Homo sapiens: one gene and its partners. The protein of the gene in region 4 purifies or fractionates together with the protein of the main gene of each other region. This does not show direct contact. Each region holds a gene or a part of one and is shown on either strand. Other genes may lie near its edges.

Region 1 (2,580 bases), on a different chromosome or scaffold from region 4:
AGTTTGAATTATGGAATACTATAAGGGTTTTTTGTTTATTTGTATGTTTTTATATGAAAGTACATAAATGACAGACTACCTCCAAGTAATCCTGCTTTAATTAATAGCAGTGATTTGTAATCAGTGTATCTTTTAAGATTCTCTACAGGTTTTAGAAAATATTAAAAATTCCCTGTAATTTACATTTGTGCATAATCTTGGAAATGGGTTGAAAAGCAAAGGTAAACTGCTTCATCCCATGTTGTATATTTGTGGACTGATTGACTACAAGTGATGTGATGTTATAAATTTGAAGTCTTTGAAACTTTATTAATGTAGAGAAAACATAACTAGCTTTTTAGGTTATTTCAAAGTTAGTAATAGAGCAAAGGAAATCAGAACTGGCCAGATATTCAGACTTGACTTAGAAAAACAGGAGTTTGTTGATTTTGTTTGGAGAAGGGCACAATAAAGGGGAGCCCACATAGCATTATAATGCCTAGTATCTTTAAACATGTAAAGAGCTATCATGAGGCAGAAGAATTAAGAAACTTTATATGTTTCTAAGGGGTCATGATTGGGACCATTGGCTCAAGATTGAAAATCGGTTTTTAATTATCCAAAGATGAAATGGGGCTGCTTCAGAAAAAGGTCTACCACTGGAGATAACGCTATGAAAAGTGAAAGAGATTACTTAATCATTTTGACAAAGGCAGTATTGACCAGACATTTCTATTTCAGAGTTGGATTTGTGCTTAGTTTTTTTTAGGTGTTGGGACCCTTGTAGTTGCTTTTTATTTTGCTTAGTCAACAAACACTAAAATGATAAAATTTGGTATGTATAAGTACTGGACGAAGGATGTTTTGACACTAAAAAGGACATAATTTAGGAAATTAAGAATTTAGACACCAAGTTTGGCTTAATAGAAAAAGTCACTATCTGAACTTCTTTCTTTTTCACCACAAATCACCGCAGACCAGTGTTTGGGAGCAGGTGTAGGAAATTGAATTATTGGATCTATGTTTAGGTAAGAAAACTAAAGGTACTTCAGAATTTAGGCTATGACATAACTGTCTTTCTGAAGTTTAAAGAAAGAAAGTGAACTATAGAAATCTATTCAGCTAATTAAAGTGAATGAAAAATATTACAGATTCCATAACTGCATGGCGCCTTACCTGCTATTAATACTGCCGCCTTACTGTCAGCCAGATGATTTTTTCCCACCACGGCCAGTCTTAAATTTGGCAATAAGAAAAAGCTAATCTTCCAAGTGTAAGTAGGTATGTGTTAGAATCTTGGTGAAAGATAAACACAAGACAGTCTTCTTGGCGCAGGTCCTAACAGTTGGTGAGATAATACATAAGATGGTTTCAGGATTATTGTAGAATTATTTAGGTTGAAAGAGACTGTAAGAGACTAATGAAGCATACCCAGAGAGGTTGCTACAGTGACTCCAGTCAGTTTTAGGACCCAGGACTCCTGAACTTCAATTTCAGTATTATTTTTCTGTACCAAACTCATTCAATAAATACTTGAGATTAGGGATAAGTTTGAAGTTAGAAGATTCCAGAGTACACTCAAATAGTATTTGGCACATAGCTTGTTGATCAAAAGTATTTACTAAGTGAGTGACAAAAGGCACTAGCAACTTTAAGGATTTTGCCTATTAGTATCATATGGCATGTAGCTATCAAGCCAGTTTCGTTTAGTTATTTTGTGTTGCCAAGCATATGATACGTGGTGTCACACTGAGCCTTTGGGATCCTTTCCCTGGATACATAACCCTAGTAGATAATGTTACTGCAAGATGTAATGACCAAATCCAACCTACTGCAAATGTTACTATGGAAATCTCAATGCAAAAGTAGCCTTTGTGATTTTTTTTTTAAACCGTCTCCATAACAGAACACTTAGAATTATTAGCCATTTGCTGCAAAGTATTTGTTTTAAAATGTCTGGCATATACACCACTAACATTTAAATGCCCAACATTCGGTCTATACGTGAAAAAACTAGAAGAAAAGCCCTGTTGGAGTTTTGATGTAGAGTGCAATAATACATCAATAAAGGTATTTTAAAATGACCTAATGTTTTAGTTGCCAACATGATTTTTGTATTTGTAAAGAGGTATGTTGGGTTTTGGCATTTATATTTTACCGTATGAAAGACATATTCATGTAAAAGGTAATGTGAAGCTTAGCATCTCTTGTCAACCTGTCCCCTGTTTCCAAGTAGTCTCCTTGGATATTTGTAGCATCTGGATTCCTAATAATCCAGATAATTAGGATTATGGCATTTATGTACAGACATGGGTAATTCTCCAAAGCAGATCTTCCCACACTAATTTTTCAAGTACTTGTCACCTAAATCATTAATAAAATGTGCCAATTCCAAATAATAGCAAATGTAGGAATTGAATCAGCATCCCAGAGTACTAGTCCTGGGCCATATCCTCATTAGGCAAAGGAAATTTGAAGAAGTTATTTTAGGACTTTACCTAAGGTGAAGTCTAGAATTTTACATATGTAGGTATGTTTTTGTTAGTCTTATATTTGCCTAAAAGTTATACGTTTTATTATTTCATAGGCGTAAATATGTTT
Region 2 (7,040 bases), on a different chromosome or scaffold from region 4:
GGCTGAGGCACAAGAATTGCTTGAACCTGGGAGGCAGAGGTTGCAGTGAGCCTAGATCACACCACTGCACTCCAGCCTGGGGGACAGAGACTGTATCTCAAAAAAAAAAAAAAAAAAAAAGGTAAATGTCTTTAAGAATTCAAATAAGAATCGAAGGTCTGGCTGGGCACAGTGGATCACCCCTGTAATCCCAGCACTTTGGGAGGCTGAGGCGGGCTGATCAGCTGAGGTTGGAAGTTCAAGACCAGCCTGACCAACATGGAGAAACCCCGTTTCTACTAAAAATATAAAATTAGCTGGGCATGGTGGTACATGCCTGTAATCCCAGCTACTCGGGAGGCTGAAGCAGGAGAATCACTTGAACCCTGGAGGTGGAGGTTGCAGTGAGCCGAGATTGTGCCATTGCACTCCAGCCTGGGCAACAAGAGCAAAACTCCATGTCAAAATAAATAAATAAATAAGAATAAAAATCAAAGGTCCTGCCCCCAAGTGCTAATTTAGCCTGGGGTCTAGGGATTGCTGAGGAAGTGGGGATTCAGAATTGAGTGTTGGATCTCTGGAGAGGACAAGATACTGAAGTTAGATTTTAAGGTCAGGACTGGAGATGAAAATTGGTGAATTATAAATAGGATGTGACTATTGACCTTACTTCTTTATCATGTGGTAACTTTTCATACTCCCATTGTGGGATAATGCTGCGTTAGTTTATTTACAGTAAAGTGTCAGGTCAAACTAAGTCAGCTTACAGGACAGAAATTGTATGTAGTCAAAATTACCTGTAATCACTCTTTTTGACTAATCCTGTTATTTTATCTAGTGAGTTGACTTCATTTCCTATGACCCTCCTTCAGTTACTGTGCCACCACCACATTGTTTCTTGAATCTTTCAAGCAAGGTCCCATCTTTGCTTCTTCCAATTTGCTTTTTTGCCTGGAAGACTCTTCCTGCTGATATTTGCATATGACTCAGATGCTTTGTTTCATTAAATCTCAGTAAAATGTCACCTTTTTAAGAAGACCTTCCTTGATCACCCTGTGAAATAGCCACCCACCCCAGCCCACCCTACCCCAGCTTTACTGTTATTTTTCTTCATAGTATTTATCACTAGCTAACCTTTCATTATGTAGTTGTGTATCACTAGCTAACATTACATTATATAGTTGTGACTCCCTTGTTAGAACATATGATTCATGAGAGCAGGACCTTATCTGTTGTGTTCACCTATTTATCTCCATTGTTCAGGGCAACGACTGGCTTGTCGTAGGCCCTCAATAAGTGCATTGAAGTAAATATTATTGCATGATGAGTGGGCATTATTAGTACTTTATACATTTTTTAAAATTTATTTATTATTTATTTGTTTTTAGACAATCTCACTGTGTGGCCCAGGCTAGAGTGCAGTGGCAGAATCTTGGCTCACTGCAACCTCTACCTCCTGGGTTCAAGTGATTCTCATACCTCAGCCTCCCGAGGAGCTGCGACTACAGGCTCATGCCACCATGCCCGGCTAATTTTTGTATTTTCTGTAGAGACGGCATTTCGCTATGTTGACCAGGCTAGTGTCAAACTCCTGACGTCAAGTGATCCACGTGCCTTGGCCTCTGAAAGTGCTAGGATTATAGGCATGAGCCACCACGCCCAGCCCTATACATATTTATTTATTATTATTTTTTTGAGATGGAGTCTTGCTCTGTTACCTAGGCTGGAGTGCAGTGGCACAATCTCGGCTCACTGCAACCTCTGCCTCCTGGGTTCAAGCAATTCTCCTGCCTCAGCCTCCCAAGTAGCTGAGACTACAGGTGCACACCACCACAGCCGGCTAATTTTTGTATTTTTAGTAGAGACAGGGTTTCACCATGTTAGCCAGGCTAGTCTCAAACTCCTGACTTCAGGCTATCTGCCTGCCTTGGCCTCCCAAAGTGCTGGGATTACAGACATGAGCCACCACACCTTTATTTTAAAATAGGACCTTAAAATAGTCCCTTTAGCCATCAGGTGTTCTTTGGCCATGGTTGCTTGAAGCTTCTTTTGGTACAGGACATCCTCCCTAATGCCCCTCTAAATCCCAGCCAGCCTTTGGATTTGAGGGCATACACTTAACCTCTGCCCCCTGATTTATTTTACTCTTCTCGGTGCCCAAAGTTGTCAATGATTGTTATTTACACATTATTTCTCCTTTTTTTCTTTGACTTTTGGGAGTACAGTGAGTTTGGAGGGATTGAAATAATGGCAGGTGAAAGGGAAGAGAGATCCTACTATATTTTATGAATAAAGAATAAAAATGAGTGAAGCCTGATCCTCCAAGAGCACCAGGAGAAAATGGTATGTAAATATATAGTTAAAATAGTATGGTGTGATAAAACCATATAATAGGGCAAAATACTAAGCAAAGTAGAATCACTATCTGTAATTCACAAATGATTGAATTATCCATTCTTCAGGGGAGGATCACAAAAAGTCACAGAGATATGACCTTTGGAGTGGACTCTAAACAATGAAATCATTGTTTACTGGGTGAACAAATGATGAGAGAGTTGAAAATATATGTTGCCTCCAAGAGTCTAATATGTGTGTGGAGGGTTGGGGGCAGATTATAGAACAGGAGGTTTTAGACAATATAGATGAAACTGAAAAGATAGAAGTGTAAACCATTGGGTTGTGAGGGGCCTTTATATCCTGTGTCAGGGACGGTAGATCTTATTTGGTACACATCATAGAGCATTTCATTATGGAAATGCTATTAGTGAAGCTGTTGTATTCATTGAAGCCTCAATGTAGGGAAATGACTGTAGAGATGACAGAGGAGGCAACTGAGGGGAGTTGTAAATGATACGCATTTGATGATATTAGGTGATCAGTTGAATGTGGAGGATTTACAGATAACTCAAATGTTCCTTGCTTGGACAGCTGGAGGATTGACACCATGGACTGAATTAAGAGGTGAGTTTAGGAGAAAGATACTAAAAATTATGTTGTGTTTGCATTACCCATCCTATTTTAGTACCAAGGTAGTAGATGGTTGAATATTAGAGCTCAGAGAGTGGTCTAAACCCTAGAACTTGGGACTCATCAATGTCCTAAGCAGGGTGTACAATAAAAAACATCATTTGACAATGGGCAGGAAAACCAATGAAAAATTTGAAGGATGACTAGAATAGTCATAGAAAATGATAGTGTCCTGGATACCTAAATACCTAGTTTGGTATTTAGTTGTCTAGTAACAAATCCTGTAGAGAAGTCAAGTTGAGTGGGGACTGATCAGTGACCAGTTTCCTTGGAATTAAAAGTAACTACTAACCTTTAACAGTTTCAGTAGAATGGTGATGAGATAGAGATTATTCATTCAGGAAAGGAAAGAGAGAAATAGGTAACCTGATTGGGAAGTAATGTCAAGAAAATATGTTTCAGGATTATTGAAAATTGAGCGTTCTTTTGTTTTTTTTTTTTTTTTTGAGACAGTTTCACTCTGTCACCCAGGCTGGAGTGCAGTGGCGCAATCTCAACTCACTGCAATCTCTGCTCTCGGGTTCATGCCATTCTTCTGCTTCAGCCTCCTGAGTAGCTGGGACTACAGGTGCCCGCCACCACGCCGGGCTAATTTTTTTTTTTTGTATTTTTAGTAGAGACCCGGTTTCACCGTATTAGCCAGGATGGTCTCAATCTCCTGACTTGAGATCTGCCCGCCTCGGCCTCCTAAAGTGCTGGGATTACAGGCATGAGCCACCGCACCTGGCCAAGCGTTTGTTAACCAAGGACAAGAAGCTAGTGGAGAGGGAAGGACTGAGGGAGGGAGGTATCTGAAGAGAGGCATCAAGTGATGAGAACTGAAGAACAGTTGGACTGTTTAACTGTGCAAAAGAATAAAGACATATTTTCCCTGGGGGGGATAATTGAAGGAGATAAAAATAGATGGGTTCATAGATTATTTTGGCATTGGCGGAATGGAGGAAAGTTTTAGTATATGTTTGATGAATTTTTTTTTTTTTGCTGAAATAGATTTAGTCCTCTAGAGTGGTTGCCTTTTCAAGGTGGTTGTCATATTGAAAGTAGCACTTGTTGATAAGTGAGAGACATTTTTAAAACTATACCAGTCGTCAGAAAGATTTCCTGAGAGTATTGCTCTGCCACATACAGATTGTATGATCTTGAGTAAAAAGTCAACTGTTTGGGTCTTACAGTCTTCTCCTGGCTTTGCTTAGTTTTCTGTATTCCTTGCCCACATTAAAATGGTTATTATCCTTTGAATGATGATACTGAATGTATCATTTTAGCTTCATAATTCCGTGACCATTGCGCAATACTCAGTCTTTTTGTAGGTGTCTGTGGCCAAAATGTGAGCCATCGTTAAACCTGTAGATAGTCATTGTGGTTTCTTAATGTCTGTTAATGTTAATTGAAAAGCAATACTTAGTTAAAGGGTTAGTGCTGAATTGTTGTAACAGAAAGTACAATAAGTACTCAAAAGTAAGTAGGAATCTTAAGTGCATTTTAAATGTGCATGTATTTGGCTGGGCACAGTGGCTCATGCCTGTAGAGTCGCAGCACTTTGGGAGGCCGAGGCAGGAGGATTGCTTGAGACCAGGAGTTCAAGACCAGCTTGGGCAATGTAGTGAGACCCTGTCTCTACAAAAAATGAAAAAATTAGTCAGGTGTGGTGGTGTGCACCTGTAGTCCTAGCCACTTGGGAGGTTGAGACAGAAGAATTGATTGAGCCCAGGAGTTTGAGGTTATGGTAAGCTGTGATCACTACACTACATTCCAGCCTGGGCAACAGAGTGAGATTCTGTCCCAAAAAGGGGGGTGGGGGGGAGGAGGGGGATAGAAATATTATTTTAGTCATTGTCACTTCACCCTACACACAAATTTCACTAGTTTGTATCAGACTACATCTTGGTTTTGATGTCTGCTTTTTCATACCTGTCTAAAATATTGCAGACCTTTATTATCTTTAATAAGCTAATAGGCAAAAGTATGTTATTGTTGCTTTTTCTTTATTTTTTAGTTTAAGTATGTTTTCATAAATTTACTAGCCATTTGGATTTTTTGTGTTTCTTTATGCTTTTCTGTTTTTCTAATACATGTCTCTCCGATAAATTATTTGTAAGTATATCTTAAATTCCACGTGTCTTAGTCTGTTAGAACTGCTGTAACTACCATGAACCGGGTAGCTTATAAGCAATAGAAATCTACTCTTGGCAATTCTGGAGGCTGGGAAGTCCAAAATCAAGGTGCTGCAAGATTAGGTATCTCAGGGCCCTATTCCTAGACCACAATCTTTTAACCCCATGTGGCTGAATGAGTGAGGGGTCTCTTGGGCCTCTTTTATAAGGGCACTAATCCCATTCATGAGTGCTCTGCCCCCATCACCTAATACCCCTTCCTCCCTCCAGCAAATGTCACCTCCTAATACCATTACCATAATGGTTAAGATTTCAACATACCGTTTTGGGGAGTGGGGCACAAACAGACCATAGCACCCCCTTTGTTGTTTGCCATAGAAAAATTTTAGATTTTTATGTGGTCACCTTGTTCATCCTTTCCTCTAAGTCTTCTGCATTCCGCATTACCACACTATAAATATACTCATTCATATTTTCCTCTAGTATGTCTGTTAATTTTAAAAATTATGATAAAATACACATAAGAAAATTTACCATCTCAACCATTTTTAAGTGTACAGTTCAGTACATTCAGTTCAATACATATACATTGTCATGCAACTATTCTCCAGCACTCTTTTCATCTTGTGAAACTGAAACTCTTTATGCATTGAACAACTACTCCTCATTTCTGATTCCCCCAGCCCCCGGCAACTACCGTTTACGTTGTCTTTTTATGAATTTGACTATTCTAAGTATCTCATTAAAGTGGAATCATCACTTAGCATAACATCCCCAGGATCCATCCATGTTGTAGCATATATCAGAATTTCCTTCCTTTTTAAGACTGAATAATATTTCACTGTGTGTATATACACATTTTGTTTATCCATTCATCCATCAATGGGCACTTGGATTGCCTCCACATCTTGGCTGTTTGAATTGTATTGCAGTAAACATGAATGTGTAAATATTCTCTTTGAAACCCTGCTTTCAGTTCTTTTGGTTGTATACCCAGAAGTGGTATTGCTGGATCATATAGTAATTCTATTTTTAATTTTTTGCGGAACCTCCATACCGTTTTCCATAGGTGCTCCACCATTTTACATTTCTGCCAACAGTGTGGTGGGTTCCAGTTTCTCCACATCCTCTCCAACCTTGTTATTTCCTGTGTTTTTGATAATAGCCAACATAATGGACATGAGTTTGTATCTCACTTTGGGTTTCGTGTTGATTTTTAACTTTAAATCTCCTCTGAATTTTATTTCATTATAGGGACTAAAGAAAGGGTGATATCGTTTTCTCCTTTGTTCATTATTCACCAGTTACTAGTCAGTTTTTCATTTATTGAAAAATCCTTTTTCTTACATTAAAATGTCATCATTATAGTCTAAAATTCCCATGTTTGTTTGCATCTTTGGGTCTGTTAATCTGTTCCTCTAATCTTAATTTACCAGATTATTTTAATTTTTATAGTGTCATATATATGATGTATCCTAGATTTTGATGTGTTTTTGTTGTTGTTGTTTTCTCTTTGACCTGAAAGTTGTTTAGAAGCCATTTTTATGAGGTTTTGTCTCTTTTTAAAAAATTTCCAACTGGCAGAAATTTTGCTTGCATATTTTTGTTAACATTTACTTCTAATTTCACTGTTTTGTGACCAGAGAATGTGGTCTGTAGTATTTCTTCTTTGGGGGAAATTAACTCAGATTTTCTTTGTGGCCTAATATTTAATTTCTGTAAAAATTCAAGGGTGCTTGGAAAGAAAACATAATCTAAGTACAGATTTAATTATATGTCGAATAATAGATGAGTTTTATTATATCTTTGTTTTTCAAACTGGATCATAAACATTTATTGTGTCATAAAATCAATTTCTTGGGTCCTGACTAAATATGTATAACTACAATTTTTAATGGAGTAGAACAAATAGAAAATTAT
Region 3 (7,040 bases), on a different chromosome or scaffold from region 4:
TGAAACATCTTAATTTTAAATTTATTCTTTACTTTTAATTTAGTCAAAACCTATTAAATTTTTCATGTATTATATCTGCTGTGGTAGAGAAAGAACTGGAATTTAGAAGTAAGGCAGATCTACATTTAATTCTAGACCTTATGTTCAAATACAGTTTTACCTTGGGGAAAGCAGTTAAGCTCCCTGAGTCCCAGTTTTTCTGTCTGTAAATAACTATGATACCACCTATGTCACTGGGATGTTTTTAGGATTATAGAAAGTAAGAATGAAAGAATGCCTAGTATGTAACTGAGGCATTGTAGATGGTCATTTCTGCTACCTTCCTTTCTTCCTTATATATAATTCATTCAACAAACATTAGATATAATTTCTGTTTTGAGGGGCTGCCTGTCTCCTGAGAAAGATAAGACGTATAAATGAGTAAATAGAGATGCTATGATGGAAGTATTATGGGTACAGTGGGCCACAGAGGTAGCATAGTGAGCTCTACTTGATAGGGAAAGATGAGACTATCAGCAGAAGCTTCACAGAGGTAACTCTTGATCTGGGTCTTACAAATGAGGTTTGCTTTTACAGTCCTCATTAGGGAGGAGAGGGAAATGGGGTTAGAGATTTAGAAGACATTCCAGAATTCAGGCATATATTCACTTTACTGTGTATTTATTTTAATATCAAGTTTTACAAATTGATTCTTTAAGAAGGAAGATTGCTCTTAAAATCTCCTAATTGGTGCTGGACGTACTTTAAAAATTATCCTGAATGTGTGACATGTTAATAATACTTAGCATTATTTGCTGCTGAATCCCTAATTGGGTGAAGACTTAAGATAACGGACTCTGGTTGTTTGTATTTGGACACCTGTGATGATATCCCAGGTTTGCTCTTACTTTACGCTTATGGAGTATTTTTTTTATTATTAGTGGTAGAATATTTGCCAATAAGTTGCCTAATAAGGTTACTAATTTCCTTAAATTCATATTTACAAGCACCTTTGGAGGGGGTTATTTCAATTTATAGGATGATATAGTATAAAAGCATGAACTTGCTGTTATTTAATGTTTTTAAAACTGTGGTTATGACCTATTAATAGACCCTGAAATTAATTACTAGGTTATAACCAGCATTATTATTTTTTTCTTTTTCTTTTTTTTTTTTTTTTTTGAGGTGGAATCTTCTCATTCTGTCGCCAGGCTGGAGTGCAGTGGCACGATCTCAGCTCGCTGCAAGCTCTGCCTCCTGGTTCACGCCATTCTCCTGCCTCAGCCTCCTGAATAGCTGGGACTACAGGCGCCTGCCACTATGCCTGGCTAATTTTTTTTGTATTTTTGTAGAGGCAGGGTTTCACCATGTTGACCTTGCTGGTCTTGAACTCCTGACCTCAGGTGATCCACCCACCTCGGCCTCCCGATGTGCTGGGATTATAGGGGTGAGCCACTACGCCTGGCCGCATTACTTTTTCAATGAAATAGAATAGATTGGAAAATATCAAAGTGCATTACATGTTATCATGATATTTATTCCTCTATAAAACTTTTTAGTTTTATTACATACATGCATCATACACAAATGCAAAATCTCAGAAGTACATGTGTACCATGAAACTTCCTATTGAGGATTACAATCATAAAAGTTTGAAAATCACTGATTTCAAATATTTCAAAAGTGTTGAGTATAAACATTTCGAAGAATTATGCTTTTACTAGGAATTTGTTAAAAATGAATGTTGTTTTATTCTCTTAATAGAAATCAGCCAAAATTACACCGTGTGCGCTTTGCAAATCATTGAGATCCTCAGCAGAAATGATTGAAAATACCAATAGCTTGGGGAAGACAGAGCTTTTCTGTTCTGTTAATTGCTTATCTGCTTACAGAGTTAAAATGGTTACTTCTGCAGGTAATATTGGTTTCACAAACTATGAAATGCAATGGTTGAAAAATAATGGTTATTGCTTTGTTTTTAACGGTTTTTTTTGGTTGATTTTTAAGGCACATTTAACATATTTCAGATATTTGTTGTAAAATATCACCTGTTACCTTGATTGCTTATTTATTTACTTGCATACCTATTTATGCATTTCCCCCTTACCAAAAGAATTTCATATGGCTTCTTTAATATATTTTCTTTTTCCCTACCTAATTTCTTTGAAGTTTCATTTATCTGGTAGTTTCAGGGTAGACTTTGACCAATTTAAATTGGAAAGAAACATTTTCAGTATTATGTTAGTTTTTGTCTATATGTGACATGATTTAGTTTCAGTTCCTACAACTTACCCTGGCTCTTAAATTTTCTTATATTGTATAGTATTATTTAATTTCTCATACTTTTGTGTACATTTGTACATATTACTCATTGGTTTTTATTTTGATTTGCTAAGGTGTACAAGTTCAGTGTAACAGTTGTAAAACCTCAGCAATTCCTCAGTATCACCTAGCCATGTCAGATGGAAGTATACGCAACTTCTGCAGCTACAGCTGTGTGGTAGCTTTCCAGGTATGGCTTCAGGAACCTTCCTCTTCTTCAGTCAGTGAGTCACCTACTGTATGAGTCTGTTCTTGCACTCCTCTAAAGAAATACCCTAGACTGGGTAATTTATAAAGAAAGAGGTTTAATTGGCTCACAGTTCCACAGGCTGTACAGGTAGCATGGCTGGAGAGGCCTCAGGAAACTTTCAATTATGGCGGAAGGCGAAGGGGAAGCCGGCACGTCTTACATGATGGGCTCAAGAGGAAGAGAGAGAAGCGGGAGGTGCTACACTTTTAAACAACCAGATAGTGAGAACTCACTATCACCAGAACAGCAGGGGAGAAATCCACCCCCATGATCCAGTCACTTCCTGCCAGGCTCCTCCCCCAACATTGGGGATTACCGACTGGACATGAGATTTGGGCAGGGACACGAATTCAAACCTATCACCTACTATAGTAATGCACATTTATTAGGTGTTTGCTAGGGCCTGGGTTGTATAAGTTTCTATATCATTCCTATTAAACTTGGATTTGTAGTTCATTCTGTATTTGGAATTTAATTTAACTGCCTTCTATAAAATTGAATGGTACTTTTATCACCCATATTATCTATTGGGAGGATATTATTTTTGAGGAAGATTATTAGTTAAGTTATTTTATTTTTTCATCATAAATGAGACTCCCCCCATTCCGTAATAAGCTGCTCAGAGGCAGGAACATTGCCTGTTAACAGATGTACCTTACATGCCTAGAACGGTGCTTGGCATATGTAGGCACACAATACTTCTTTGTTTTAACAAAGATTAAATTGATACTTTTTGTTGTTTTGTTTTTCCAGAATTTATTCAACAAACCAACTGGAATGAATTCTTCAGTAGTGCCCTTGTCTCAGGGCCAAGTAATTGTAAGCATCCCCACAGGTTCCACAGTGTCAGCCGGAGGAGGTAGCACATCTGCTGTTTCTCCCACCTCCATCAGTAGCTCTGCTGCAGCTGGTCTCCAGCGTCTCGCTGCCCAGTCCCAGCATGTTGGGTTTGCACGAAGTGTTGTGAAACTCAAATGTCAACACTGTAACCGTCTTTTTGCCACAAAACCAGAACTTCTTGACTATAAGGTAAAGTATAGCATGTTCATGATAAGATTTTGAGTATACGTGGGTCTATTTGTAAAATTATTTTTAACTTTGCATCTCTCAAAATCATACCATTTGTTTTGAAAGTAAGGGAGATAAGGAGTTCCATAAGACAAACCAAATGTTTAATTAGTACTTAATGATTATTTCTTTGCAGGGCAAAATGTTTCAGTTCTGTGGCAAGAATTGTTCTGATGAATATAAGAAAATAAATAATGTAATGGCAATGTGTGAATATTGTAAAATTGAGAAAATTGTAAAGGAGACTGTTCGGTTCTCAGGTGCTGACAAGTCATTCTGTAGTGAAGGTAAAGACAGAAGATTATCTTACCTACTGAGCATGTTGGTTGTTTTAAAGCAGTTGATGATGATTTAAGCTTTCACTGTCTAAGTTAATCTGTTTTATTGTTTATGTATAACGTAAATGCCTTTTCGATTCATTTACACTTAGTTCATTCTTTTTTGATCTAGTTTTCTTATATTATGTAGCTGTTAAAATGAAGTGAAAGATTTGCAAAGTATAATGCAGAAGAAGATGATGTGAAAAACATTTAACATCCTTAGGTTCCCCATTATTAGGTTGATCGGGACCTCAAAGAGCTTCTAGTTCGTGTACTTATTTCTAAATGGGATGCCTTAAATTATGGTAACATTCTAAGTTTATACTTTTATTGTCTTAAACAGCCATTATATTTCTGAATATAAATGGCTTGAATATGCAAATTAATATGTGGAAGATTGTTTTCCTTAGATAACTCTTCTATATGTTTATAATGTTTTATTTTACTCTAAAGCTGTATTAGCCTTCTAGAGCAAGGGCTTTCAAACCTTTTGATAACACCAAAGAAGAAATACATTTACACTGTGACCCAGTATATTTTCACATACCTAAATAAAAGTTTTTTTTGTTTTTGTTTTTGTTTTTTGAGACAGAGTCTTGCTTTGTCACCCAGGCTGGAATGCCATGGAGCGATCTTGGCTCACTGCAACCTCTGCCTCCTGGGTTCAAGCGATTCTCCTGCCTCAACCTCCCGAGTAGCTGGGACTACAGGCACCCGCCACCACACCTGGCTAATTTTTGTATTTTTAGTAGAGACAGGGCTTCACCATGTTGGCCAGGCTGGTCTCCAACTCCTGACCTCAGGTGATCCACCCACTTTGGCCTCCCAGAGTGCTGGGATTACAGGTGTGAGCCACTACGCCCAGCCCCAAAAGTTTCATGAAATAAAATCGATGCAGTTTAATATTTTCTCTTCTGTGCTATCCTGTCTTATATCATTTAAAACAAAAACAAAAACAAAGCAAAACAAAAACTAGTATAGATACTCTAAAAAATCAAGATACTCTGTGAACTGGTCAGGACCCAAGTGTGAAAACTTTGTCCTAGACCACTTATTTTTCTTTTTTTTGTTTTTGTTTTTATTTGACATGGGGTCTTGCCATGTTGCCCAGGCTGGTCTCAAACTCCTGGGCTCAAGCACTCCTCCCGCCAGCCTCCCAAAGTGTTGGGATTACAGGTGTGAGCCACTGCACCGGGCCTGTCCTAGGCCATTTAAAGTTGCAGAAAACTAATACTTCTACCTAATGTTAATTTTATCTTTCCTGATTTTTAGGTTGCAAATTGCTTTATAAACATGACTTGGCAAAACGCTGGGGAAATCACTGTAAAATGTGCAGTTATTGTTTACAGACATCTCCCAAATTGGTACAGAATAATTTAGGAGGGAAAGTGGAAGAGTTCTGTTGTGAAGAATGCATGTCCAAATATACAGTTTTGTTCTATCAGGTAAATAGAATTCACATTCCTGGGTTTTTCATTCTAGGGCATAAATTATTCCCTTTTAAAATTTCATGTCACATAAAGGACAATTTAATTATTTAAAACTTTTAAGTATTAAATGTTTTATGCCTTCTAGCAATTAATATAAGATTTAGAAAGACTTTAATGTTATTGAAGTTTTCTTTTGTTTTTAATTTCCTGTAGGAGACATATCAGTCTTAAGACATTAAAATATTTAAACTTATAATTTTATTCACTTATTATTTAAATAAAGTGAATTTGTCTTCTGAAGTCTGAGGAAGATAGACCTTATTTTTATTTCACTTTGTTTTTTAATTGCTATAGAGTGAAGTCTGTATGTTACATGTGTTTTTTAAAAAAAATTAGTATAAAATCAGCTGGGCGCGGTGGCTCACGCCTGTAATCCCAGCACTTTGGGAGGCCGAGGCGGGTGGATCATGAGGTTAGGAGATCGAGACCATCCTGGCTAACATGGTGAAACCCCGTCTCTACTAAAAATACAAAAAAATTAGCTGGGTGTGGTGGCGGGCGCCTGTAGTCCCAGCTACCTGGGAGGCTGAGGCAGGAGAATTGCATGAACCCAGGAGGTGGAGCTTGCAGTGAGCTGAGATCACGCCACTGCACTCCAGCCTGGGCGATAGAGCAAGGCTCTGTCTCAAAAAAAAAAAAAAATATATATATATATGTGTGTGTGTGTGTGTGTGTGTGTGTATAATCATTGATAAAGACAAACTAATTTTTTGATCTAAATTCTAAGTTAATTTCGTCACTTGTTATGTGTGTCTTATTTTTATTTTGTCAGACCACAGATAATTTGTTTCTTACTCCTTGACTACCTTCTTCTTTTTAGATGGCCAAATGTGATGCTTGTAAGCGACAGGGTAAACTCAGTGAGTCCTTGAAATGGCGAGGGGAAATGAAACATTTCTGTAACCTGCTTTGTATCTTGATGTTCTGTAATCAGCAAAGTGTATGTGACCCGCCTTCACAAAATAATGCAGGTAAAATTAACCTTAGGTACTGAATGGAGTCTTTGGTCAATACTAGGAACTACTGTTCTTTTACAGATCAGGAACTGTGTAAACAGTTGTCATTAATTTCATGAAACCTCAGTTTCCTTGTATTCTGTATCAATAACATTTAGCTTTTTTTGTTGAACACCTTATTTCACTGTCGTCCGTGTGAAGAGACCACCAAACAGGCTTTGTGTGAGCAACAAGGCTGTTTATTTCACCTGGGTGCAGGCGGTCTGAGTCTGAAAAGAGTCAGTGAAGGGAGATGGGGTGGGGCCGTTTTATAAGATTTGGGTAGGTAAAGGAAAAAGGGGGGTTGTTCTCTGGCGAGCAGGAGTGGGGGTCACAAAGTGCTCAGTGGGGGAGCTTTTTGAGCCAGGATGAGCCAGGAAAAGGAATTTCACAAGGTAATGTCATCAGTTAAGGCAGGAACAGGCCATTTTCACTTCTTTTGTGTTGGAATGTCATCAGTTAAGGCAGGAACCGGCCATCTGGATGTGTACCTGCAGGTCAGAGGGGATATGATGGCTTAGCTTGGGCTCAGAGGCCTGACACCTTAGATTAAAGCTGAGTAAAAATGAGTTTTTGATTAAATAGATTTCTTTGAGAATATTGAATCAAATAAACT
Region 4 (7,552 bases):
GGCACCCGCCACCACGCCCAGCTAATTTTTTTGTATTTTTAGTAGAGACGGGGTTTCACCATGTTGGCCAGGCTGGTCTCGAATTCCTGACCTCAGGTGATCTGCCCTCCTTGGCCTTCCAGAGTGTTGGGATTACAGGCGTGAGCCACCACACCTGGCCTATCCACTTTTAATTAAGCTAACTTTTAACCATAGTGCTCTTTAAAAAAGAAATCCTTTCAAATCTCTTATTACCCAACTTTAGCCATGCCAAGAAGCCAATATTTCTAACTTCTGAACTTTACCAAAGGTTATCTCCTACGTGCATAGAGAAAGGAAAATTTAAGACAGTCTGCGGAGGAGAAGAGACTAGACAAGGTCACGCAGATATTAAACCAGAAATGACTTACTTCCTAGGTGGGGTATCAAACCCAAACTGCCACTGTGAAAGTGCAGAAACCTTAGTTACTGAGCTACAGTGTGGGACGGTGCCTACTTCCTTTCACAGAAGCCTAGAGTAGTTAATTTTGAGCTTGCAAAGGCTTTTAACTATTTTATATGATTTTTAGAGCTGACTATGACATGAACCCTAAAATTCCTTTTCCCTAGTAGGTGGAGACCAAGAGAAGGTACTGCCACATGGTTAAAAGGTCAGGCTCCCAAGGACATAAAACAAGGGGAGACTTCATCCTGTTTGTTTGTTTCAGGGACCTGCAGCTGTTTGTTACTGACCAGTTTGCTGGGTCATGTTGAAAAGTGGGCTCACAGGTGTTCTAAGCCCATGTTTCATCCTACAGAAAAACAAATTCACAGCACAAAATACACCAGTTTGACTAGCTTAGAATTCTTTTTCATATTAATCAAAACTTTACAGAGGAGATACACACTGATTTATTATTTTTATTATTGTTATTATTTTTACCATTCATTCAACCGTTTGCACAGAGAGGGAGAAGTCAGAAATCTGACTGGTAACAAATTCTTACCTTTTTGCTGGCATGCCAGGCTTCTGTGTTCCCTTTCTCTGAGTGGTCCCAGTGATCTGGCTTGTGGCACCATCGCCCTGGGGGCCAAGCCTCATTGTAAAGGAAAACTACTTTTTTTCATTCTGACCAGAGCAAAACACATGTGATGAAACATACACATTAGCCACTCTGCTTAGCACCCAATATTAAACTGGCAAGGCTTAAATTTGCCCCCAGATAGGCCCTGTCATCTTTAATCCAACCTCTGACTTGGAGTTTCAACATGTGGTCTCTGGGCAAGATGGTCGCCCTGAGTAATAGAGTAATAGAAAAGATAAGAAAGGGGCCGGGCGCAGTGGCTCACGCCTGTAATCCCAGCACTTCAGGAGGCCGAGGCGGGCAGATCACAAGGTCAGGAGATCGAGACCATCCTGGCTAAGATGGTGAAACCCCGTCTCTACTAAAAATACAAAAAATTAGCCGGGCATGGTTGCAAGCGCCTGTAGTCCCAGCTACTCGGGAGGCTGAGGCAGGAGAATGGCCTGAACCCGGGAGGTGGAGCTTGCAGTGAGCAGAGATAGCGCCACTGCACTCCAGCCTGGGCGACAGAGCGAGACTCCGTCTCAAAAAAAAAAAAAAAATTATATATGGAAATGCTTTCGCAGGCAATACTTTCCCAGGAAATATTTTCCACAAGCAATACTTTCCCAGGGAAGGCAAAATGATCAGGGAGGCCAGAGAAAGACCCACCCATTGCAGTGACACTGAAAAGTTCAGGCGGCTACGGCTGCTGTCGTGAAGGGATTTTTTTCCAGCAGTCCCGTCAGCTCTCAAGTTTCCCCTTTTGGGGGAGGAAAAAGCTCCCCATGTCCCACGATCCTGTACACGCCTAACCCTGTCGCCCGGAGCCATCAGCAAAGAGTGCAAGGCAGATTAATCCAAAGACAATAGCAGTTAACATCCCACGGTGCCAAACCTCTTCTTAGCCAAGAGGGACTTTACTGAGAGGGGTCTCTAACCCCCTAAATCTTAGAAGGGACTCTAATCCTCCTAAGTTGGGCCTCTAACCCAAGGTCAGTCAAGCGTCCTTGCCTTTTATTAAGAGGGGCCTCTAATCCACTCTGCCTTAGGAGAGACTCTAACTCCCCTAACTTGAGCGTCTATCCCAATCCCATTCTTTACCTGGGTACCCCACCACTTACCCAAAGTCATCCAATCAGTGCTGCAGTCTATTTCCTTTGAGTCAGGGGGGTCTCCTCAGCATTGTCCCTTTTGTGGTTTGCGAGAAAAGTGTTACCCGACCCCACCACTTACCCAAAGTTAGCCTTTGGGTCACGGGTTCCTGCAGTATAGTCTCTTCTGTAGTGGCCAGGAATGTGTTACAGGAAAGGGGTCCCAATCCATATCCCAAGAGAGGGTTCTTGGATCTCGCACAAGAAATAATTCAGGGCGAGTCCACAGTGCAAGTGAAAGCAAGTTTATTAAGAAAGTAAAGGAATAAAGAATGGCTACTCCATAGACAGAGCAGCCCCAAGGGTTGCTGGGTGCCCATGTTTATGGTTATTTCTTAGTGACTTGCTAAACAAGGGGTGGATTGTTCATGCCTCCCCTTTTCAGACCACATAGGGTAACTCCCTGACATTGCCATGGCATTTGTAAACTGTCGTGGCACTGATGGGAGTGTAGCAGTGAGGAAGACCAGAGGTCACTCTTGTCACCATTTTGGTTTTGGTGGTTTTGGCCAGCTCCTTTACTGCAACCTGTTTTATCAGCAAGGTCTTTATGATCCGTATTTTGTGCTGACCTCCTATCTCATCCTGTGACTCAGAATGCCTTAACTGTCTGGGAATGCAGCCTAGTAGGTTTTAGCTTCATTTTACCCAGCTCCTATTTAAGATAGAGTTGCTCTGGTTCATATGCCTCTGAAAAAACCATTTAAATTTAATTATAAGAGTCTGGCCAGAGGGGGTGGCTCACGTCTGTAATCCTAGCACTTTGGGAGGCCGAGGTGGGTGGATCACCTGAGGTCGGGAGTTTGAGACCAGCCTGAACAACATGGAAGAACCCTGTCTCTACTAAAAATATAAAATTAGCCAGGCGTGGTGGCGCACACCTGTAATCCCAGCTACTCAGGAGGCTGAGGCAGGAGAATCGCTTGAACCCGGGAGGCGGAGGTTGCAGTGAGTGGAGACTGTGCCACTGCTCTCCAGCCTGGGCAACAAGAGTGAAACTCCATCTCAAAAAAAAAAAAAAAAAAAAAAAATTTAAGAGTCACAAATATGTGAAAAAGAGAATGATGTCTTTATCAATTTTCAAAAATTACTATTGCCAGTGATGAATAACAGTGTTCCTTGCACACTAATTTAGCCAAAAATATTTCTCCAAAAGTACCGCATCGTGTAGGAAATTGACTCCATCTCCATTCCTTGACTATTTTCAATCTCAAAATTAAATCTCTTGGAGAGTACTTTCTGCACACCTTTCTATTTCCTTAACCATATATATCGTCAAACCATTGAAAGCTGGACTTTATTCTCTCACTTTCATAGTCATGAAAAGAAAAAAAAAAAGTTACTGATGGGGACTCCTAAGACTTCGCATAATATAATCTTTGCATAGTCTAGGATTGTTAAAATTCCTAACAAGACTTTATAAACTCTCCTGTCTGCAACCAGTTAATGCTGGGTTGGGCCAGGGTTCCCCTCTTTCCCGTCACTTATCCATCTACGCTCATTCTTTTCATAGCCTCACCCAATATCATGACTTGAAGTAACAGTTTACAGTAATAACTCCCAAATTTATATATCCACGCTCGAACCCTCTGCCAATGTTGAATCATAGGTTGAGTATATGGCACTACGCTTTGTGGTCTTACTGACGTTTCAAACTGATCATGCTTGAAATGGGAGTACTGGGCTTCCCGGCAAGCCTGCTCCACTAGCAGCCTCCCCACCTCAGGGTACGGGAAGTCCACACGTGGCGAACGCGAAGCCTATTACATCACCCGGAAGTCCCTGCATCCTACGAAGGCTGGGCCCGGCCAAAGGAGGCCCAATAGAGGGCGGTCTGTCCTTTCCCAGCAGGCTGGGCACACTGTCAGGCGTCCTCCTTTGGGTGGCTATTTTAACTGCTCATTTATCCTTTTCTTCTATGAAAAGATCCAGAAAAGAGGCAAAGCAAGCGAGAAGTCGCGGGCCCAGCCCACAGCAGGGTAAGCACCTTTGTTCGGGGTCTGAATCGGGGCGAATATCCCCGCCTCCTGACCTCGATTTTCCTGAGCTAGAAGGGACCTTTCGACCCTCCGACTTGTGCCTATACTAAGGCGGTGGCCCTAAGACGACGCGGGGGTTCTGGTGCGCACTTACGTGCAGTCGGATGCGCTGGGTGAGTTCCCACACCCGGTAGATGTAAGGGAAAAACTGCATTACCCAGAAGGCACTGCCCCTTGCGTCGGCCGCGGACTCTGGGCCATTGACGACCCAGGACAGGAGAGTTTTCTGCGGGCCAGGGCGGCGGAGGCGGGACTTCCGCTTCTTCGTGTGACGTCATCTCCGTGGGCCGGTTTGGCCCTGAAACAGTGTGGGGCCTAGAGCGCTGGGTGGGCGCGTTCTGCGGCCTGAGCAGGGACGGGTAGTGAAGCGGTTACGCCCCTTCTTCGCGTCTTGGCGGGAGCCTGACGCCCCGCTTCTCCCCTAACGAGGTGTCCCACCGGCGCCCGCCGAGGCCTAGGCCTCCGCAGCCGCCCTCCGTCTCCTCAGCCCCGACGCTGCGCCTTGGGCCTTGTGCGCATTTTTTTCGGGGGAAAACTGAGGCTCGGAGTGCGAAAGTCAGCCGAGGTCGCCCCGCCCAGGACAGAGAAGGGCTGTGGTCGGCTGATCCGCGGCATTCCCGGGATGGCGGCGGCGTGGATGGCTCCGGCGCAGGTGAGTGGACGAGGTTTCGGCCTTGCTGCTGCTGTGCTATTTCTAGAGGCCTCGTGGGCAGGCTGGAAGCCAAGACAGCCACAGGATTTTTCTTTGTCGCCATCGTTTATTTAAGAGAAATGGCCGTGGCTTGTCATTTCCTTTATCCGCAGTCCTGCAACAGTGTTGGCCTCTGATAGGTGTTCAGTCCGTGGTTGAAGGAGTGATGCTTCCTTCTAGGGATCTCATCACACTTCCCCTAAATCCAACCTTCTCTGTTGCCTGCCAGCCCGTACCCCATCCACCTGGCCAACCACCCCTGACCTTGTCTGTTTGCATTTTTCCCTGGTCCTTTGCTCTTCAGAGCCACCAACCTGACCGTGCAGTCCTCTTCCATTTTCCAGGCTTTCTCCTTGCACTTCCTTTTACTTCGAACACTGCCCCTGTAACTTTGCAGGGCCTCCCTTTCACATCCTTTTGGCATCTGTCCAGGTGTCACCTATTTGGAGGTGCCTTTTTTGGCAATTCCGGCTAAAGTGGCACCTTACACCCTTGCCCAGAGTCTGGTATTTTTGTGTAGATAATCTGATGGTATTAAAGAAGCTTGTGGATTTGAGTTTGTCAAGGATGTAATGGGAACAAAGAAAAATAATTGCAAAGAATGATATTAACTGTCATTGAGTCCTTGCTGTGGGCTGATCGGTGAGTATTATTTAACCCTCAGTTCGTTTAACCCTGAAATTTTTTTTTTTTTTTTTTTTTTTTTTTGAGACGGAGTCTTGTTCTGTCGCCCAGGCTGGAGTGCAGTGGCGTGACCTCGGCTCACTGCAACCTCCGCCTTTTGGGTTCAAGCGATTCTCCTGCCTCAGCCTCCTGAGTAGCTGGGACTACAGGTGTGCGCCACCACGCCTGGCTAATTTTTGTATTTTTAGTAGAGACGGGGTTTTACCGTGTTGGCCACGCTGGTCTTGAACTCCTGACCTCAGGTGATCCACCCATCTGGGTCTCCCAAAGTGCTGGGATTACTCTTTAGAATTAGGTTCTGTTGTCATCATTGTTTTACACAAGAGCAATTTGAGGGTCACATACGTCCAATTACCTGCCTTACATCACTGTAGCTCTTAAGTTTCTTAAGTCAGAAACTAACAACTGGTGTGTCTAACATCATAGCCTGTGTTTTTACCCTCTTCTTTACCCGCAGTGGTTAGGGAGGCCTGGGGGTGAGACCTAAAGTAACCTTTGCAAGATGAGGCCTCCTTCTAGCCAGTGATCTTGGGCATGAGGAGTCATGGCCTTTCATACTGGTGGAACTGTGTAGACTTAAAAAATGGTATATTGGTTGTTTAAGGAGTTCTCAGGGGACCTGTGTGGCTTCCACGGTGGTTTTATATGTGGTTCCCCTTACTCCCTTACCTGCTGACATATTCTGAGAGGGCACGTTTGTATGGTTATGTTGCTGAATGTACCCTCCTACTCAGCCAGGATAGATGTAATCTCCAGATGGGCCCATATTGTCTTGGCTACAACCTGCTGTGCCCTCTATGACTCTTGTTGCTTGCTCATGGAATCTTCTGGCCTCAGGGATGCCTGCTAGTAGGACTTAGGTAGAAAAGGAAGCGATGGCTCATTGTGAATTCTCCCTGGAAGCAGGTCCAGGCCCTAACACCTGATCAGGTGTCACCACGTCAGGTGATTCTTTGGTGAGGTGGATGATGATGACTACACTTCTCTGCCCTTGTCCATGGGAGTGGCTGAAATGTATATGTGGATTTGAAATGCTTCATTCTCATTAACTGCATTAACTTTGCTAATAGAGAAATGTCAGGTTACATAATCAGACCAGAGGGCCCTGGGCTTAAATCCTGCCTCTGTTGATAAGACCTGTGACTTTGGGCTGGGCTTGGTGGCTCACACCTGTAAACCCTGCACTTTGGGAGGCTGAGGTAGGTGGACTGCTTGAGCCCAGGAGTTCAAGACCAGCCTGGGCAACATGGGAAAACCCTGTCTCTACAAAAAGTACAAAAAATTAGACCGGCATGGCATCATGTGCCTGTAGTCCCAGCTGTGCAGGAGGCTGAGGTGGGAGGATCACTAGATCACAGGAGGTCAGGGTTGCAGTGAGCCGACATTGTGCCACTGCATTCCAGCCTGGGTGACAGAGTGAGACCATCTAAAAAAAAAAAAAAGAGAGAGACATGAACACATGAGACTTTGGGTAGACTGGTAGAGCGGAGGGTAGGACTGAGGCCCAGGTCTCAGGTCCCTGAGTGTGACATAGAGATGATGATGGTAAATTCAGATGCTGTGGCCTTTGCCTCAGTGTTTGTTTGTTTTTTTTTTTTTTTACAAACAGTTTTTCTTTCTTTCTTTGTTTTGATGGAGTCTAGCTCTGTTGCCAGGCTGGAGTTCAGTGGTGCGATCTCGGCTCACTGCAACCATCGCCTCCGACGTTCAAGCGATTCTCCTGCTTCAGCCTCCCGAGTAGCTAGGACTACAGGCACACACTACCACACCCAGCTAATTTTTGTATTTTTAGTAGAGATGGGGTTTCACCTTGCTAGCCAGGATGGTCTCAATTTCCTGACCTCATGATCTGCTCACCTCAGCCTCCGAAACTGCTGGGATTACAGGCATGAGTCACCGTGCCCAGCCTACAAACAGTTTTTCTTTAGTTCTTTTGACTATTCTTTTTTTTTTTTTTTTTTT

What was found.
Region 1: the proteins of ZNF460 (region 4) and ZBTB10 purify together in Homo sapiens (co-immunoprecipitation; 2 studies listed by BioGRID and IntAct, with this or other methods). This does not show direct contact.
Region 2: the proteins of ZNF460 (region 4) and SMARCAD1 purify together in Homo sapiens (affinity purification with mass spectrometry; 2 studies listed by BioGRID and IntAct, with this or other methods). This does not show direct contact.
Region 3: the proteins of ZNF460 (region 4) and ZMYM4 purify together in Homo sapiens (co-immunoprecipitation; 2 studies listed by BioGRID and IntAct, with this or other methods). This does not show direct contact.

What each region holds. Positions count from the first base shown.
Region 1 is NC_000008.11:80,524,203-80,526,782, forward strand, and holds the end of ZBTB10 (zinc finger and BTB domain-containing protein 10), read left to right. Parts: 3' UTR 1-2,063; downstream 2,064-2,580. UniProt on the Homo sapiens protein: May be involved in transcriptional regulation.
Region 2 is NC_000004.12:94,210,831-94,217,870, forward strand, and holds part of SMARCAD1 (SWI/SNF-related matrix-associated actin-dependent regulator of chromatin subfamily A containing DEAD/H box 1), read left to right. Parts: intron 1-2,204; exon of another isoform or gene 2,205-2,322; intron 2,323-2,907; exon of another isoform or gene 2,908-2,940; intron 2,941-7,040. UniProt on the Homo sapiens protein: DNA helicase that possesses intrinsic ATP-dependent nucleosome-remodeling activity and is both required for DNA repair and heterochromatin organization.
Region 3 is NC_000001.11:35,383,699-35,390,738, forward strand, and holds part of ZMYM4 (zinc finger MYM-type protein 4), read left to right. Parts: intron 1-1,743; coding exon 1,744-1,894; intron 1,895-2,375; coding exon 2,376-2,491; intron 2,492-3,304; coding exon 3,305-3,580; intron 3,581-3,755; coding exon 3,756-3,906; intron 3,907-5,211; coding exon 5,212-5,384; intron 5,385-6,249; coding exon 6,250-6,400; intron 6,401-7,040. UniProt on the Homo sapiens protein: Plays a role in the regulation of cell morphology and cytoskeletal organization.
Region 4 is NC_000019.10:57,275,970-57,283,521, forward strand, and holds the start of ZNF460 (zinc finger protein 460), read left to right. Parts: upstream 1-4,515; 5' UTR 4,516-4,837; coding exon 4,838-4,867; intron 4,868-7,552. UniProt on the Homo sapiens protein: May be involved in transcriptional regulation.